Homo sapiens: one gene and its partners. The protein of the gene in region 2 purifies or fractionates together with the protein of the main gene of each other region. This does not show direct contact. Each region holds a gene or a part of one and is shown on either strand. Other genes may lie near its edges. The genes, in order: HK1, PYGL, HSD17B4 and PFKL.

Region 1 (3,500 bases), on a different chromosome or scaffold from region 2:
CTTCTATTAAAATAAACATAACCCTGCCTGGACGGGTGAACACATTGGCTCTTGGTTGAAAGTCAGCTAAGCAGGTGCCCTCTGGGTGATGTGGCTCAGACTCTCCATTTACATTTCAAATTTTTCCATTTCAAAATTGGGAAAGAAAAACTATTACTTTGTTCATCACAAAAAACGTGCCCCCTGCCTGTGGAACCTCAGGCCCCAGACCCCAGGCCCAGTTGCAAGACCCCCAAATGCAAGGCCACCGCTCCTCATTGCCCCCTCGTGTGTTCCAGGGACCGGCAGCAATGCCTGCTACATGGAGGAGATGAAGAACGTGGAGATGGTGGAGGGGGACCAGGGGCAGATGTGCATCAACATGGAGTGGGGGGCCTTTGGGGACAACGGGTGTCTGGATGATATCAGGACACACTACGACAGACTGGTGGACGAATATTCCCTAAATGCTGGGAAACAAAGGTAACCCCGCCTGGTGGAGAGGACACTCACAGTCAGGGTGGGGGCAGCACTTGGCTGCATTCTGCCACTTGCAGTGGAAGAAGTTTCTAGGAGGAGAGGTCTGAACAGAGGTTTCAAGACTGGACCCCCTGGCTCACTCCTGACCTTTGTCTTTTGGACAGCAGAGAACCAGGGAGGACAGACCCCCAACATGGTACAAGATGGCCCAGGGTTGATGCCTGTCTAGGGGCTGCCTGTGACTGTTTTTTAGCCTGGAGGATTCTGGCCTTCCGGTCCCCTTGCTGTGTTCCTTTCCCATCAGAATAACAAGGGGGTGGGGTGAGGGTGGCTGGGCGGCAGGTTGGTGTGAAGCAGAGGCCCTGTCGCAATCGTCCTTTCCTCCGTGAGCCTCCTGCACCACCTAGTGGCCTTGTGGAGCTTTGCAGCTCAGGTCTCAGGTACCATGTCTGAAATGGCAGTGTCTGCCCTTTGTCTCAAGCCCCCAGGAATCAGGCCATCCTCTGCCACGGCCAGGATGAGTTGGTCCAAGTTGTCTCCCTAGGAGCAGAAAGAAGGGCTGGAGCAGCACCCAGCATGAGTCACTCCCTAGCCCCCTCAAGGTTTTTGCCTTTTCTAAATACCACCCATGCTGTTATTTACTTAGTGCTTTTCTTCGAATCAGCTTACAGTTTTTTGTTTTTCTTTTTGTTTGAGGTGGAGTTTTGCTCTTGTTGCCCAGGCTGGAGTGCAATGGCGTGATCTCGGCTCACCACAACCTCCACCTCCCGGGTTCAAGCAGTTCTCCTGCCTCAGCCTCCCCAGTAGCTGGGATTACAGGCATACACAACCATGCCCAGCTAATTTTGTATTTTTAGTAGAGACGGGGTTTCTCCATGTTGGTCAGGCTGGTCTTGAACTCCCGACCTCAGGTGATCCGCCTGTCTAGGTCTCCTAAAGTGCTGGGATTACAGGTGTGAGCCACCGCAACCAGCCCTTATAGTCTTTTTCTTTTCTTTTCTTTTCTTTTTTTTTTGAGACAGAGTCTCACCCTGTTGTCCAGGCTAGAGTGCAGTGGTGCGAGCTCAGCTCACTGCCACCTCCTGGGTTCAAGTGATTCTCCTGCCTCAGCCTCCCAGGTAGCTGGGATTACAGGTGCACGGCACCACGCCCAGCTAGTTTTTGTATTTTTGGTAGAGACCAGGTTTCACCATGTTGGTCAGACTGGTCTCGAACTCCTGACCTCAGGTGATTGGCCCGCCTCAGCCTCCCAAAGTGCTGGGATTATAGGCGTGAGCCACCGTGCCCAGTGGCCTTTAAGGTCTTTACTGACATTTAATGAAGGAGGAAAAAGAGGAAGAACCAATAGTACCATAAAGAGATGGTAACTAAAAAATGAGTATAGTGAAGAACCGTGCTATTCAAGTCTAGCTGATGCTGTCGCCTACCAAATGACCTGAACTAAGACCCCCTTTGGGCTGAGTGCAGTCTATCATCAAAGTAATCCCAGCACTTTGGGAGGCCAAGGTGGGAGGATTGCTTGAGCTCAGGAGGTTGAGACCACCCTGGGCAACATAGGGTTGAGACCCTGTCTCTACTAAAAATTAATAACAATAATAACAACAATAATAGTAAGACCCCCTTGGTTAAAAAGCGGGGGGATCAGCAAGTGTTGGAAGGGGTTAAGGACATGTCAGCACCAAACTGGGGTGGTCTTTGTGGTGGAATGAGAAGGACTGGGTGGGACTTCGTAGTGGTGGCCCACCCCTCTGTGATTCCATTCTGTTTCATGTTCTTCCATGGACCACATGAAATAGGAGGAATCCTGGAGTTCCAAATTCCAGGGGACTCTTCTCAGCTTTGGGACACTGGGCTTGGGCATGTGCCATGGAAATGAATCAATCCTTTGTTATTTCTTGAGATCCTTGAGCATGGAGAGGGCAGGAAATTTGAAGTCCCAAGAACAGGTTGACCTCCAGTGTGTTGTGGTCACTGAATTCTCCCTCCTGTGTGGCCTCATCACTCTGCTGTGGGCTTGACCAGTACTCTGGGTATTTGCAAAACCTTTAGAAAAATCTAGAAACTTTCCTTTTTTTTGTCTTCTTGTTCCTTTAAGACTTAGCCCAGTCATTTGCTTATTCTGCAGATAGTTTTTGGGCACTTTCCTGAGGGCCCAGTGCTATGCTATGCTGTGCTGTGCCCTGGGGACTCAGAGCTGAAAAAGACACACATGCCCTGTCCTCTTGGGGCTGTCACTACAGCAGTGGTGGTGGGAGGCAGTGAGCTCAGGTGTGTTGTGAAGGAGGAGAATGGTGAGGTGTGTGGGAACCTGAAACAGGCAGGTAGAACCCAGGATCAGGAGGAGGACAGGCTCTCGGGGAAGTGACCTTGGGGCTGAGAGCTATCAGGCAGCTGAGGAGGGAGACCAGTCTAGCAGGTAGACATGAATGCTGGTGGTTTTGTTTCTGATGTGAGAGAGTGGAGGACTCCCTGGTCCTTCCTGGTCCTCCCACTCTGCCTCTGCGGCAGAGCACAGGGCTGGGCACATGGCTGTTGATGATGCGCTTGAGGGGCAGTAGGAGACGCGGAGTGACCGTGAGACCGAGGGGTGACAGTTCTCCTGGCCACTTCCCATAGACACCCCAGGCCCCTCCTCCTGTCTCAGGTATGAGAAGATGATCAGTGGTATGTACCTGGGTGAAATCGTCCGCAACATCTTAATCGACTTCACCAAGAAGGGATTCCTCTTCCGAGGGCAGATCTCTGAGACGCTGAAGACCCGGGGCATCTTTGAGACCAAGTTTCTCTCTCAGATCGAGAGGTGAGTGGGCAGTGTCTTCCCTGCCAGCGCCCACCCTTCAGAGGTCGCCTGGCTGGTGGATTGTGATGGGGGTGGTAGGGACCCTAGGGGACATTTTGGCCATTTTTGAGGATTTTTTTTCCTCTGGAATAGCAGACCCTGGGCATTTGCATAGTGAAATCTTATAATTTTATTATAAATTACTTTTCTTGGCCTGGTGTGGTGGCTCATGCCTGTAATCCCAGCACTTTGGGAGGCCGAG
Region 2 (5,135 bases):
TTGGCAATTCCTGCTATGGTTACAATGTTTTGGCATGTAAGCCATATTTCCCATGCTTTCTTATGAATGAAGATGCTTCCCTTTAAACTATAGGGGAGGAATCCATTGTCTGCTAAATGCCATGTCAAGAGACTTATCCTATGGCTCATAGAGTTTGAAAAACACTACTCTAAAATGTTAGCTATAATGCAGGCAAACAATTCAATGAGAGGCTTTATTGACCTACTTAGCTTTTCTTGTTCTTTCTGAAGATACGCACCCTAGTAGGCTTACACTGAGTCCCAAACACTCCACTGGGGCTTCAAAACAGGGTCAATTGAGTCTTTATCCTTAATAAAAATATATCAAAATCTCATAATTTTTATATAAAAGAATATGATAAGAAGGAATTTATTTTATAGCCTCTTAATTTTGTAAGGAACTCTAAAAGTGTATTGGAAGTGAACAGAACATTATTCAAAAATGTTATCAATGCATTATAAATGCTTACGAGAAAGACTAAAACTACCATCATTCCTTAAGGTACAGCAAAACAGCATCTGAAATTTGTTTATTCAGACTTTGGAAGCTTCCTGTAATAAGAGGAGGATAAAAGCTTTCTCTCTTCATTTTCTTTAACTATTTAAATGGATAATGAATAGACTTCCCAGTCATATGGGTCATGTTTACTAAGTCTCAACAATACAATCATTGTTAAGAGTAAAAAGCTGCAATTAGCACTAATGAACAAGAAAGACCGAATCAAATGCTGGGTTTCTAGATGAGCATCGTTTGGATTTGGGCCATAATTTTAACAGAGGAGACATTCACATTTGTCCTTGCCCTTGTTCATATTTTTCTTTCCTGTGCTGTTTTATTGATCTGTCTTGAGGTGGCCGTTCTCTTCCCTGTGTCTTTGCATTCTTGCGGCCTGTATATGGCTTTTCTCTCCAATGTACAGGAAGCAGGTAGTGAGCCCCTGAGCTTAGCTCTAGCACTGCCCTGCTTGTTTGTAGCCATTAACTTGAACTTATTCTGGTCTATATGCCACTGGGGGACTGGCCATTATTCTATTAGAAGATAAGGGCTGTAAAGCAGCACAGGCGTTGAATGATCCTTTTTAAAATCCCAGTGGGACATTTAGGATGACAGTAGGAACTACCCTTTTATCTGCCTTGGGAAAGGAGTAGAAAGAAATGTTAGTAAAACCCACCCTGGAGTCTTGGCACAGAGCTAGCCCCCTCCAGTATCCATTCCTCTAGGGTATCTGAAATTCACTAAAAGTCTCTCCTATCAGAGATGATCAACCTTTTTACATATTTACAAAACACAGCTAGAGAGTTGTTTGATAAAGCGTATAACTTTGCATGCAGAGGCTTATTCACATGGCTCTACCCATCCCTTTTTTTTCCCCTCAGTATAGTATTGTCTTCCTTATTCTTCTTTCTTTTTTTAAAAATTCAATTATGAACACCTTTCTCTTTCTACGAATTTATATTCTATTGATACAGCCCCCTCCATGAGAAGTCCAGAAGAGGTACCTATTTTGCAATTTTCAGAGAATAGGGGTCAGTCCTTATCTTAAAAAACCATGTTTTAGCCTTAGAATCATCATGGCAGGTTTCTCAAATACTGATGACCCCACCCATTACTGGGAAAGAATCTCTCAGTGCGGGGGCTGGCATCTGTACTATGATGAAGCTACCTTGGTGATTCTGATGTGTACCTCTGGTTAAGAATCTCGATGTTCAAACAGGCTCCTTGAGGGAGGGGAGGGAGGGAGAGACCTCAACTTTGCTCATGCTGTGTTCTCAGTGCCAGCACAGTGCCCGGCATAAAAAAGACGCCTAATGCCCCTCTGAGGCTTTATTTCCTTAGCTTCCAGGACATGTCTGCTACAGAGTGGGTGCTCAAAAAATATTGAATTATTTGTGACTTTTAAAAAACTTGGATATTAAAAAATTTACAACTGGCTGGGCATGGTGGCTCACACCTGTAATCCCAGCACTTTGGGAGGCAGAGGCGGGTGAATCACCTGAGGTCAGGAGTTCTAGACCAGCCTGGCCAACACGGTGAAACTCCATCTCCACTAAAAATACAAAAATTAGCTAAGTGTGGTGGCACGTGCCTATAATCCCAGCTACTTGGGAGGCCGAGAGGTGAAGGTTGCAGTGAGTCAGGATCACGCCGCTGCACTCCCGTCTGAGTGACAGAGCGAGATCTGTCTCAAAAAAAAAAAAAAAAAAAAATTACAACTCCTGCTGAAATGTCAAATCTCAACCTTGGCCTGAACTTGGGAAAAGACAAGGTTTTTTTTTTTGTTGTGGTTGTTTGTTTGTTTTTGTTGTTTTTTTTTTGATTGCTTAATGGGGATCTGATATTACATGGGGATCTGATATTTGCATTTAATTAAAAAACCCACATTTTAATGAATCATAGTAAACTGGTTTTCTTTATAAATCTTGGCAATTTACTCACCATGTACAGCTGACTCACTTTATCTTGACACTTGACATAGGCTTCGTAGTCTGCAAAGACTTTAAACCTTTTATTTTGTGAGTGGAAGAGGAAAAAAACAGTCAAAATCTTCATTAATAGATATATGCTAAAATTCCATGTAAAATCATCTTTTGCTTAATATCAGGCATGGCTGGTTTACCAAATTCATATTTCTGTTTGTAAGACTTTTAACCAGCCCTCAACCTTCTTATGGTTCTCACATGTGAGAATGTCATCACTGGGATGCATTTGGAAGTTGGGAATATCAGTGGAAGGAGAAAAAGAGAACCAGATTTGTGTGTGTTATTCTTAAACCTTACTGGCATCGCTGGTGGAGAATATCTAACTTTTTCCCCAAGCCTAAACTACCTGAGCAGATCACGCTAATCTATGCTAATCTACATGAGTGGGTTTAAGTTGGTTTAAGATTGGTTTAAGATTTTCTTGTTGGTTTTAGAGTTGGTTGGTTTAAGATTTTCTTGTCCCCCTTTCATGATCCAAATAGCACCATCTTCTTATGGGAACTCACCTGTCATGATAAAATAGCATGTTGATGATATCTTTGAAGAGGTCAGGCTGCTTGGGAGAAAAAAAGCCATTGTCAATTTGATCAATGACCAGCTTCAGCTCTGGAAGTGCCTCATAGTATTCTTTTGCCTCGTACCTGTGGGGTAGGGGTGGGTGGGTGATAAAAAAAGGCTCTGTTATTGTGTTGTGTGATTAACAACACACTAGACACTGCATTCACTGTGAAAAAATACATTCAGAAATACTAGCATTCAAAGACTTCATTATAGATTTCACCATGAGTATATATAACTTTTAACTAGATCTGTAAGTTTTTCTTCCTGTAAATTTGATTCCTTATAACCAAAGACACTAAGAACAATAGATAATGAAAACTCTAGTCAAACATCAAGAGTCTGATGTGGTAGAATACAGCAAGGTCCATTTCAAAGCAGACTTTATGGCTTTAAATGAACATTGTATTAAGTAGATCAGTTGCTTTTTGGATCCACAGATTCTCAAAAGTTGTTGCTACTGAGTGAAACTGACTTCCAAGGGTCAGGAAGTATATTCAACATCCTCCAAATGTTACTTCTTTGGGCAGTACTCTTTATTTTGTGCTTGAACTCAGGTTAATAAACCCATCCAGATATGAAGTGAAAATAAATGTTTCCAATTACTTCTGTACACCCGTATCTATTCTCTATCACATTTTAGTGCATTTCTTTGATATCTTAAAGGAGCACTAGATCATGATTTAAATTATAGGCAACCCTTCCAACTAGAAACTGGTTCATCTTTTGATCAAAGTAAAAATCATACATACGGAGGAAAAATAGCTCTTTGAGGCCAGCTCTGCAATGGCCGATAACAAATAGCAACTCCTCCATGTGTCTGTACTTTTATTTGCTGGGTTTAATAATATTAATCTGTGGCCAGGAGGCTCTCCTGCCTCATCGTGGGAGATGTTCTGCTGCCACCTCTTATGTGATCCAATTTCAGTGGGATATCGGTGTGGGCAGGAAGCCCTCTGAGGTCACATACCTTCTAGGGGGGAGGGGCAGTCCTGCCTAGCAAAGAGAAGCTATTCTCTTACCCTTTCTTGTCCAAAGCAGCCACATCATCTATCCTCATGCCAAAGATGAACAGGTTCTCTTCCCCAGCTTCTTCTGCCATTTCCACATTGGCCCCATCCATGGTCCCGATAGTTAGGGCCCCATTTAGCATGAACTTCATATTGCCTGTCCCCGAGGCTTCGGTGCCTGCAGTGGAAATCTGCTCTGACAGATCTGTGGCTGGAATGACTGCAAGAAAGGTAAGTTAAAATTAGTAATTTTGTCTGTCTAGATCTGCTTGTATTGTATTGAAGCATTTATTAAGTTGGGCTGTTTTGATAATTAAAGTAATACATGCACATTAAGATAAACATTCAAATGGTCTAGAAGGCAGATCACACTCTTTCCCCTTGACTCAGGCAACCACTTTTGTCCATTTTATATGCTTGTATTTCTTTCTCGAGCTATAAACTTTGAAGAGTATCTATTGACTGCGACAAACATTGATACTACATTTCTCTTCTTCCTTTTATTCCTTCCAATTTTTGTTACAGTTTTATTTTTATTTCTTCTACTTTATAAAATATATTGAAATTTCTCTTTTTTTCTTTCTCTTTTTTGGTACAGGGTCTCTCTCTGTCACCCAGGCTGGAGTGCAGTGGTGCGATTACAGCTCTCTGCAGCCTTGACCTCCTAGGCTCAAGCAATCTTCCTGCCCCAGCCTCCCAAGTAGCTGCAATTACAAGCGAGCACCACCATGTCCAGCTAATTTTTTAAAATTTTTGTATGTATGGGGTCTCCCTATGCTGCCCAGGCTGAACTTCTCTCTCTTGATCCATAACATTCAGAGTGTCCCTCCAGGACTCCTCTTTGGCAACCTGAGGAGACTGGATTGTCTGCATTCCTTCTACTTCTCACCTCCTTCCTTCCACTTTTCCTGCAGGGAAATAAGCCACACGTAATTGAGGTGTGCCTGGGGCTAGACATCTAGCCTCTGACCTTTCAGGCTGATTTGCACGCAAATTAGAGCTGCCTGAAGCACTTCCTTTGACTACAAAGGTCAGGACCACTTTTCTGCTTTACTGTGAGAGCTTA
Region 3 (5,135 bases), on a different chromosome or scaffold from region 2:
TCCAGACCTCAAATGATCCGCCCACCTCTGTCTCATAAAGTGTTGGGATTACAGATGTGTGTCACTACTCCTGGCCTTGGGTTGTTTTTGGAAGGGGCTAATAATTTATGTATCTCAGTTTGTTATTTGTATACTTATTGATTAATTTATACTAAATATAAATTGTTAATTAAATTTATTCATTTGTCAATGAAATTTATCAATTAACTTAAAATGTAAAAAATATACACATATTAAAAAATGTAAACAATACAGAAAAACAATCCAGAAGTAAGCCTTCCACCCCTTATTGCTAGCCACATAGTTCTGTCCTCCAGAGGTAACCACTAATTGCCAGTTTCTAATGTGTTTTTCCCGAGATACTCTATGCCTATAAAACTTCTCTCTTGGCTGGGGATGGTGGTGGCTCACGCCTGTAATCCCAGCACTTTGGGAGGCCGAGGTGGGCTGATCACGAGGTCAAGAGATCGAGACCATCCTGGCCAACATGGTGAAACCCCATCTCTACTAAAAATACAAAAATTAGCTGGGCGTGGTGGCGGGCGCCTGTAGTCCCAGCTACTCGCGAGGCTGAGGCAGGACAATCACCTGAACCTGGGAGGTGGAGGTTGCAGTGAGCCGAGATCATGCCACTGCACTCCAGCCTGGGCGACAGAGTGAGACTGGATCTCAAAAAAAAAGAAAAAAAGCAAAACTTTCTCTCTCTCTCTCTCTCTCTCTCTCTATATATATATATATAATTTCTTTTTGGATATATAAATTTACACCTTGTAGCTTTGAGTCAGAATTAAATATTTTCTGTATTTGATGACTGTGTAGTCAGGGTTCACTGTGGGATACAGAAACCACTAGATATTTTAAGCAGCAAAGGATTCAATACAGGCAATTAGGTTTTAGGCAGGTCTTCTTAGAATAACTCCTGAAACAATAGGAAATTGATCCATTAGAGGAGGCAATACCTCTGAGGCTGTCATTGGAGCTGTGCCACAGCCCAAGTAGCACTGGCACTAGGGACCTGAAGTATGGAAGCTGCCATCCAGGGATTAGGGAGCTGAATGAAGAAGTCGCTGCTATAGTCAGTTTCTGAATACCTAGGAACTTTCAAGAAAACTAGCTTCTTAACAACAACAGCCAGAACTCCCAGTAAGGTGGTCTCTGTCTCACTTACACCTTCTAAGTTTTATGCAGATGCATCAGATGGTGGAACCCAATTCACAGCATCCTAGCAGCTAAGTAGAATGGTAGGAAGTGGTAGTAGAATAGGTGGAAAAATACAGTTTTAAGCTTTCCAGCCTCTGCAAGCAGAAGAGAGTGGATAGGTTGAGAATGTCAGTGATAGGATAGGTTGAGAGTATCATTAAAATGTAATTAATTGTTCACCAATTTCTTTAAATGGGGATTGAGTTGAGCGGACCAAAAAAATTATGCTGACATTTCTTCAACTTTCTGATTATTTTGTTTTTGATTAGGATTGGGCCGAGCCTATGCCCTGGCTTTTGCAGAAAGAGGAGCGTTAGTTGTTGGTAAGTTGGTGTGTTTTTCTTTTTAATCTGTAGCTGATAACTGAAATACAATCTTTACAAGCTATCTTTGTCTTTCTATCAAATAATTTGTCAAGGTTGAATTTTATTATTAATTTTTACTTTTGCCAGAAGGTTTTTACCCCGACTAAGGCTGTCTGTCTAAATTACTTTTAAAAGGGAACCAGTTTCACAGAATTCCCAGCTTAACAGAATTGATAACGAAGGGCTAGGGGGTAGGCATGCTGGCTTGTGGCTATAACTCCAGTGACTCAGGAGGCTGAGGTGGGAGGATCGCTTGAGACCAGGAGTTCGAGCCTGCAGAGAACTATGATTATACCACTGCACTCCAATCTGGGTGATGGCGCAAAAAAAACCCTGTTTCTCACAGAAAAGGGTGGGGACAAGCATTTATTGTATAAAAGGAAATTCTTGACTTCAGTAAATTGTAGGCTGTAATTTTTTGAGACAGGAGGTTTGTCTACTGGTGCGAGATCAAAAGAGAGCCCCTGTAAGTGTATTGATAAAAGTAAGAAATAACTGAATTTTGAGAACTGGAAGTTTGGAGTCAAGGAATCTAAAGTATGGGTTTCTTGACTCTTTCATCAAAACTTTTCAGCTGGAAGTGTTTTAAAAAAATTTAATTGAGGGGGCAGTTACATGAGTTTTTGTTTGTGGAGGGGTCAGATGGAAGATACTGTATTGAAGAATCCTAAAGGTGGGAGGTTTTAGTAATCTGCATGGTTTGGACTGATCTAATGTGCTTGACAGTTGGTGTGGACACAGAAACGAATTTGTCCACAACTGAGCCTTTCTGGGGAATAACTAAATGGGTGCTAAGTGCAGGGGGATATGTAGGACCCAGTACTTATTAGCATATTTCCTGGGATAAAACTGTGGGCCCACAATGATCTTCTAATTTCAGCTTTCTGACATCTTAACGAGGCAATACAGAGAGACGAATTTTCATCAGTTTGTTCAGGGAGACACATATAACAAAAGAGTAAGCAAGCAACCAGGTTTTCTAAACAAGCCCTAAGCAGAGCACTTGATACACTTTTCTCCTTCATTGTGGATGTGTAGCTTATCTTTATGGAAGGAACACTGACGCTTTGGATGTTCCTTGTTTAAGATCATAGGCACTGTCTGCTAATCCAATCTGCTTCTTCTGGCAGGGATGAATTTTGACATTGTATTATTTGGACAGCGAGTATATATTTCAGGCCCACTTTGTCAGATTTTCCCAAGAATAGCTCATGTTGAGGCCTAAAGACACATGCTGTTACTATTTTTAATTTTCCTTCCTTTTTATGTTGCTATTTAGTTCTTAATATTTTTACCTTATATGTTTTTATTTATTTACATCTTTTCTGCTCAATTCCATAACGGCAAGGATCTTGTTTTATCTTTTGTATCTACTAAAGGACCTAGAATATTTCTTTGTGCAAAGAAGGTACTTTGTTCATTGGTTCTTTTATTGTTGATATACTTTTCTGGGGGAAGGGTGTGTTTGAGATTGGTTGAATACATTTCTTTTTTTTGTTCTTGACTAAGATATAAACTTAGTTTATAAACCTGTTTTGTAAAAAATTTTATAACAGTGTGTTCCTGTGCATCAATTTTCCTTTATTTCCCTGTTCCCTCTCAATTTCTTAAATTCAGATTAGGAGTATTTGAATTCTAAGAAAAAATTAAACAGAGATGCTGTGTCTATCTATTTTGTCATTGCATTATTATAGTAGAGATGATAATTGTGTCAAGTCCTGATAAAAGTCCAAGAATATAGAAGAAAAATATTTCATAAACTTGAATGAAGAGCCAGATTTAGTTTAGTATTAAGGAGGAGAATTCAATCCATGTGGAAGTGCAGAAATTTTGACTGATGTTTTCTATTCCTTTTTAAAGTCTGTGTCTTACCTGTTAGCCTTTTTACATGTACACCATAGACACCGTGTTTCCAAGTTGCATCACACACACTAATTTTTTTTTTTTTTTTGAGATGGAGTCTTGCTCTGTTGCCCAGGCTGGAGTGCAGTGGCGTGATCTTGGCTCACTGCAACGTCTGCCTCCGGGTTCAAGCAGTTCTCTGCCTTAGCCTCCCAAGTAGCTGGGATTACAGGCGCCTGCCACCAAGCCTGGCTAATTTTTTTTTTTTTTTTTTTAAGTAAAGATGCGGTTTCACCATCTTGGCCAGGCTGGTCTTGAACTCCTGACCTCTTTTTAGAAGTGGCATGTCACTTCTACCGACATTTCATTGGCCAAAGGAAATCATTTGGCTAAGCCAAAAGTTAGGGGCATCATTTAAGATAGTCTCCAATTTTGTGTTAATATGATTGCTATGTTTTATATTCCATAATATAAAGCTTATGGGATATTTAAATTTGGTATAAGAACTGCTAAGCCTTAGGCTGATACTGTAAAAAGGGACATTTGCTTTTGTGTAAATTACATCTTTCAGGAAATGCTTGTGCATTTCTTAAGTAGGTTATTGGGAATTCAGTAGTTTTGAGGTTTCCTCAGTAGGTGAGCTATATCTAGTTCTCTGAATAGTAAGTTTTATTTTGAGGACATAAACACAAGAAGGACTGACAAAAAGGAGCAAAAAGAACTCCTTAGTAAAAGAAAGGGAGTTCTACTCTTGAACTGAAGTAACACCTTTGGGTAAATTGAATTACAATCTTTTTAAGTAAGATTGACATGACTTTTCCGTGCTACAGTTACATAATAATGGTAAAGCTGAGTCTTAACTTCCTGTGGCCTGATGCTAGAGCCATTGTTTTTAACCCCTATGGGATCTTGACAGCTGGAAGGTGAACTGTAGTGGGCAAGGTGCATTGCCTTTGAAGTCAGGCCAAGTTTTAAATCCTGGCTCTGCTGCCTAATTATATGACCTCTCTGTTTATAGCTGTCTTAGCTAACTTCCGGGATTATGGTGAGGGTAAATGACAAAAAATTAAAGACTTTCGGAAAGGGAAGAGAAAGGAACCAATATCAGTCCCTGCTTACCATATATGACTCACTCTGCTCAAGAACTGGATATATCAAAGTGAAGGTCTTGTTGACTGAGGTCTTGTTGACTCAAGGCACATCCTAGCCCCCTTATACATGTTTCTCCTAGATGCTTAAAGGAAAAGCTCTGTGTCTTAGTCTGTTTTCTGTTGCTTATAACAGAACACTTAAAACCGGGTAATGTATTTTAAAAAAGGAATTTATTTCTTATAGTTATGTAGGCTGAGTAGGCCAGTGCTGAGGGGCTACATCTGGTGAGGAGGGCCTCCTTTCTGGTGGGGACTCTGTAGAGTCCCGAGATGGCACAGGGCGTCACAGGGCAAGAGGCTGAGTGTGCTGGCTCTCGTCTCTTTTCCTCTTCTTATAAAGCCACTAGTCTCACTCCCATGATAACCTGTTAATTCATTACCCGATTAATCTATTAGTCCATGAATAGATTAATGCATTTATAAGGGCAGAGCCCTCACAATTCAATCACTTTTTAAAGGCCCCACATCTCTTTTTTTTTTTTTTTGAGAGGGAGTCTCCCTCTTTTGCCCAGGCCGGACTGCAGTGGCGCTATCTCGGCTCACTGCAAGCTCCACCTCCCGGGTTCACGCCATTCTC
Region 4 (5,135 bases), on a different chromosome or scaffold from region 2:
ACAACCAGAGGGGGCCAGGCTGGCCTGGCCTGAGCCGGAGGAAGTAGCTCTGTGGTCCCTCAGATCAGCCCCTGAGATGGGGCAGGGGCACCTGTCCCCCAGCCCAGCTGGTGGGGAAGGGAGGCTGTCAGGCTAGAAGCCCGCCATGGCCAGAGTGGGGATGTTCATGCGCCCCGCAGCGCGCACTATCCCTTGACCCCCTGCCTGCTTGAGGCACTTGCCCTCCTGGCCCCCAGGGCCCTGACACCTGGTTGGGGAGAAGGCGGAGGGAGGAGCAGAAGCCCACAGCTGAGCTGGCATCCGCCCTGGCCGAGGAATGGCTGCTCCACTGCCTCACCTCACGGCCTGGAGAAGGCTGCTGATGCCATGGAGGGACCGGGGCTGCACGGAGGAGGCCGCCCTTCTCCTCTCCACACCCTTAGTGAAATGCAGTCATGAGTGTCCCTCCCCTCAAACAACAAGAAAGGGCTGGCCGTGCAGTAGGAAACGGGCACGTGGCACGGAGGCTGTGCAGGTGCCATCTGGGAAATCCCAGGTAGAACCGCATGAGAGGCAGATCCACGGTACTGGATGGAAGGCCCAGTGTGGCCGGCGTGGCGGGACGCGGAGCCTGGAGCCCCTGCCTGGGGTGTTGCCGGCCCTACGAGCGATGGCCACTCGGGTCCCCTGGACCCAGGAGCTCCCTCGGGTGGGGGCCCGCCTGTAGGGAGGTGTGTGTGTTCTCAGCTTCCCGCTCTGGCGGGCAGATGGTAGCCTGGGCTGTTCACACGGCCGCCACACAGCAAGAGCACGCGCCGCACACCCCGCCGGCCGCATGCCTGGGAGGACTCCAGTGGGGACAGAAGGAGCCACGCACAGCAGCCTCTGTGGTGTCATTTCTAGGATGTTCAGAACAGGCAGACCTAGGATGCACCCTCAGGAGCTGGATGGCGGGCTCCGCTGGGGCCTTCGGGACGCTGAACTTGCCTGTGTGGATCTGGGTGGGGTGAGGGAGCTCAGACAGGCCCCTGCACCAAAGCACTTGCCACAGGAGTCACGCCCCGGGACACACGGACTCACCAGCTGTGCAGAGGGTGTCTGGAGCCCCCTAGGGGGCACCCGGACCCTGTTACCCAGGCCCTGGGATGATGGTGGGGCCTCACAGTCAGCACCCTGGTCCTGCTTTCTGCTGGTGGGGTGAAAATCCTGCTCCCAGACCACTTGCTGCCGGCCGCCATGGGGTCCCCTATCTCATGCCTGCCCCACTCTTGATTTCAGGGCTATGAGGGCCTCGTGGAGGGAGGTGAGAACATCAAGCAGGCCAACTGGCTGAGCGTCTCCAACATCATCCAGCTGGTGAGGCCTGGGAACGCGGATGCATGTTGCACTTGGACTCGCAGACAGACACACAGAGACAGACCTGCACACACAGACACACACACAGAGACAGACACGTGCACAAACACACACATGCAGACACACAGACATGCACACAGACGCACACACACACAGATGTGCACACACACAGATGCGTGCACACACAGACCCGTGCACGGACACACAGGCGCGCACAGACACAGACACGTGCACAGACACACACAGACATGCACACATACAGACACACAGACGTGCACACAGACACACAGACGCGCACACAGACACACACAGATGCACACAGACATGGAGACAGATACACATGGATAGACACATGCAGACACATAAATACACAGATACACACGTAGACACACAGATGCGCACACAGGTACACAGATACAGAAACATACAGACATATGTACTCAGAGTCACACACACACGTGCCCCATCGCACAGGGACTCAGGTTCAGGCCGACCCTGTCATCTGCTGCCATGGAATTGTTGGGTCGCAGGGTCATGGGGTTGCCAGGGGCCAGGAGGACCTGGAGACGTGGCCGTGCTGGGTCCTGGGGGAGCCCTGGCTGAGGCTGGCTATGAGGGGCCACGTGAGCGCACCTGGAGCTGCTGAGGCTTGAGCCCTGGAGGCCCTGGCCGGTTCCCTGAGTTGGTACAGGGCCTGTGTGTGCACGTGTGCACGCACATGTGTGTGGCAACCTATGCGTGTGTGTACTGTGCTTTCCAGTCTCCAAAGCCTTCCACTCTATTACCTTGGGGCTTCCCAAGCCCAGGACCGGACGGACATCATCCTCCTCTTTGTCTCTCCAAGGAGAGAGGCCCAGGGAGGTAGGGCCACCTCAGGTTTCCAGAGACCCCGGGGCTTCTGCCTCTCACTCTGCAGGGTCTGCCAGCCCCTTGCTGCCCAGTCCTGGGGTCCCTCTGGTGATCCCCAGGGGCTGTCTGCCGCCTGCCATCTCTCCTGAAGTTTCTGGTCTCCTCTGTGCAGGGCGGCACTATCATTGGCAGCGCTCGCTGCAAGGCCTTTACCACCAGGGAGGGGCGCCGGGCAGCGGCCTACAACCTGGTCCAGCACGGCATCACCAACCTGTGCGTCATCGGCGGGGATGGCAGCCTCACAGGTGCCAACATCTTCCGCAGCGAGTGGGGCAGCCTGCTGGAGGAGCTGGTGGCGGAAGGTGGGTCTGTGCCCGGCGCACTGTAGGCCCTGGGGTTTTGTTTTGCCGCTGCTGCCAGGCGTGGGAATGGGCAGGACAGAGGGACGAGGGATCCCTGGGTGCCCCGAGGCAGAGGAGGGGCTGTCTGGCCGTTGGCCGGGGAGGAGTAGTGTCTGCCAGCACGAGCTCAGATGTCTCCCAGAGATGGAGGTCAGTGCTCAAGCCTGAGGGAGGGCACCCAGGCAGTGCATGGGGCTGGTGGAGGCCGGTGTTGCTCACCCTACGCTGCGTAGACAAGTCTTCTCTGTGATTGATCCGAGTGAGATTCTGGACATGCATGGTCACAGTCTGCAGAAATAGAGTTGAAGTTGGGGTGACATAAGACACAGAGTCCCGAGATTGCTGCTTGGAAAGTGGCCTCTCGGAGCCATGTCTGTTCCATGTCCCTCATGTGGGGGACCCTGATGTGAGGCCTTGGCCGCTCTGCAAGGCACCCCAGAGGTCCCCCGTCTGCACTTGGCCCCAGCGGATCCAGCCATGCTGCCACAGGGTTCCAGGCAGGAGGAGGCTGAGCCTGGAACTCCGGGGCCCCTGCCGGGCTGCACGCCTGGGATGCGGGGGAAGGGGTGGCAGGAGAGGGGTCTCTGGCCCTGTGGTGGGGCCAGTGGAGCCTCAGCCAGGTCCTCCTGCTGCTCCTGGCCCAGGTAAGATCTCAGAGACTACAGCCCGGACCTACTCGCACCTGAACATCGCGGGCCTAGTGGGCTCCATCGATAACGACTTCTGCGGCACCGACATGACCATCGGCACGGACTCGGCCCTCCACCGCATCATGGAGGTCATCGATGCCATCACCACCACTGCCCAGAGGTGAGTGAGGCTGGCGCCGGCGGCCAGCCCAGGGCCCCTCCTCCCCGCACGGTGGTGAGGTGGTCTCAGGGTGACGGCCATCTGCAAGGGCAGTGGACTCTGGTAGCCCCAGCATCCAGGCCAGCCGCCCTCAGCCCCCAGCTGGGGGAACGCACAGCGGGCTCCACTCCCACTCTGCCAGGCCGCGGGGGGCCTTTGTGCAGCCCCTTCTGAGGGGCAGCTGCTTGCCCTGGGGTGTGACGCCCCCAAAGGAAGTCCTGGGCTGGCCAGGCCTGGGCTTGGCAAATGACCCTCAGCCTGGGAGGAGATCAGTCGAAACCAGCCCAAAGGCTGGAAGGATCCCAAGGTATCTTTTAGCTCAGAGCCTGGGCATGAGAAGGGGCTGTCCCCTGCCTGCCTCTCCATCCACTGGGTCCCTTGAGCACCCCGCAGGGAATCGGGCTGGCAGGGCCGTGTGGCTGGCACTGATGCATCCTCCTGTTCCATCTCCACAGCCACCAGAGGACCTTCGTGCTGGAAGTGATGGGCCGGCACTGCGGGTGAGGAGGGGCTTCCTGGCCCGCTGGGTGGCCCGGGTGCTGCTGGGGACCGCAGTGACAGGTGTGGCATATTTATTCTAGGGCTCAGTTAATGCCATGGGTGTGAGAGAGCCGGGTGGGGGCCGGGAGAGACAGAGAAGCTGTGGCCCAGAGTCGGACCTCTGGGTACAGGGAAGCTCCCCTCAACGGCTGGGTGGGGGTCCTGAGCAGGCAGGCGCTCGCTCCTCCAGGTACCTGGCGCTGGTATCTGCACTGGCCTCAGGGGCCGACTGGCTGTTCATCCCCGAGGCTCCACCCGAGGACGGCTGGGAGAACTTCATGTGTGAGAGGCTGGGTGAGGTGGGTGCCGTCCAGCCTGCTGGGGGCCGCAGGTGTCCTGGTGCACTGGGTAGCGCCCCTGGGGTTTTGGGACCAGCCTTGACCAACTCATCTATCACTCATGGGTTCATCAGCAGCTGCAGGTGCCCCTTGGGGGCGGGACACGCAAGGAGTGGGGGGCTACGGGGCTGACCTCAGTGAGGCACCTGTGGTCCTGCCCCCAGTGGGCAGGAGGCGGAGAGGGTCACTCAGGCTGCCGCCGCCCCAGGCTCAGCCCCGTGGTCAGTGTGGGGAGCTTGGTGAGGCTGCTTACTGGGGTGGGACTGCTGAGCCTGGGGCGGTGGGAGGTGGTTGGTTGTGAGGGAGTGGCCCCAGCAAGGTCCAGACGGCAGGGCTGTGGGGGTGGCGAGGCCAGGAGCTGGGCCAGTGGGGAGCAGGGCCTTCCCCTGAGGGCGGTCGGGGCCCGGGGGTGGGTTCTAGGCTGGAAAGATGTGTCGGAACGTGGCTGTAGCCACAGGGTGGACAGGAGGTCCCGGAAGCAGGAGAGGGTGGGGAGGCTGCTGGGAGGCCGAGACCGCCTCTGGGAGGGATGGGGGGGTGCCTGGTGGGGAGGGGTGTGTCTGGAGTGGGGGTGCCTGGAATGCCGCCCTCTGGTTCCCTTGGGGTGGAGTTGGGGGCTCTGGCCTAGAACAGGCTGACACTGCCCTGTGGACCCTGAGACCCCTCAACTGGGACAGGTCGGCCCCTTGGTGGGGTGGGGCTCAATGGTGGACCAGAGGCACGGGCCATTCAGGCTGTCCTTCGCCCACACCCGACCATGCAGGGCAAGGCCAGGGGCCCCCGTGGCTCTAGCTCTGTCCTCTGTGCGCTGAGGCTGAGGCAG

The links.
Region 1: the proteins of PYGL (region 2) and HK1 fractionate together in Homo sapiens (co-fractionation; one large-scale study listed by BioGRID). This does not show direct contact.
Region 3: the proteins of PYGL (region 2) and HSD17B4 fractionate together in Homo sapiens (co-fractionation; one large-scale study listed by BioGRID). This does not show direct contact.
Region 4: the proteins of PYGL (region 2) and PFKL fractionate together in Homo sapiens (co-fractionation; one large-scale study listed by BioGRID). This does not show direct contact.

Annotation. Positions count from the first base shown.
Region 1 is NC_000010.11:69,391,847-69,395,346, forward strand, and holds part of HK1 (hexokinase-1), read left to right. Parts: intron 1-278; coding exon 279-462; intron 463-3,103; coding exon 3,104-3,259; intron 3,260-3,500. UniProt on the Homo sapiens protein: Catalyzes the phosphorylation of various hexoses, such as D-glucose, D-glucosamine, D-fructose, D-mannose and 2-deoxy-D-glucose, to hexose 6-phosphate (D-glucose 6-phosphate, D-glucosamine 6-phosphate, D-fructose 6-phosphate, D-mannose 6-phosphate and 2-deoxy-D-glucose 6-phosphate, respectively).
Region 2 is NC_000014.9:50,905,814-50,910,948, forward strand, and holds part of PYGL (glycogen phosphorylase, liver form), read right to left. Parts: intron 4,290-5,135; coding exon 4,082-4,289; intron 3,143-4,081; coding exon 3,008-3,142; intron 2,525-3,007; coding exon 2,458-2,524; intron 1-2,457. UniProt on the Homo sapiens protein: Allosteric enzyme that catalyzes the rate-limiting step in glycogen catabolism, the phosphorolytic cleavage of glycogen to produce glucose-1-phosphate, and plays a central role in maintaining cellular and organismal glucose homeostasis.
Region 3 is NC_000005.10:119,454,846-119,459,980, forward strand, and holds part of HSD17B4 (peroxisomal multifunctional enzyme type 2), read left to right. Parts: intron 1-1,469; coding exon 1,470-1,523; intron 1,524-5,135. UniProt on the Homo sapiens protein: Bifunctional enzyme acting on the peroxisomal fatty acid beta-oxidation pathway.
Region 4 is NC_000021.9:44,309,749-44,314,883, forward strand, and holds part of PFKL (ATP-dependent 6-phosphofructokinase, liver type), read left to right. Parts: intron 1-1,257; coding exon 1,258-1,335; intron 1,336-2,356; coding exon 2,357-2,546; intron 2,547-3,229; coding exon 3,230-3,395; intron 3,396-3,889; coding exon 3,890-3,934; intron 3,935-4,164; coding exon 4,165-4,273; intron 4,274-4,896; exon of another isoform or gene 4,897-5,135. UniProt on the Homo sapiens protein: Catalyzes the phosphorylation of D-fructose 6-phosphate to fructose 1,6-bisphosphate by ATP, the first committing step of glycolysis.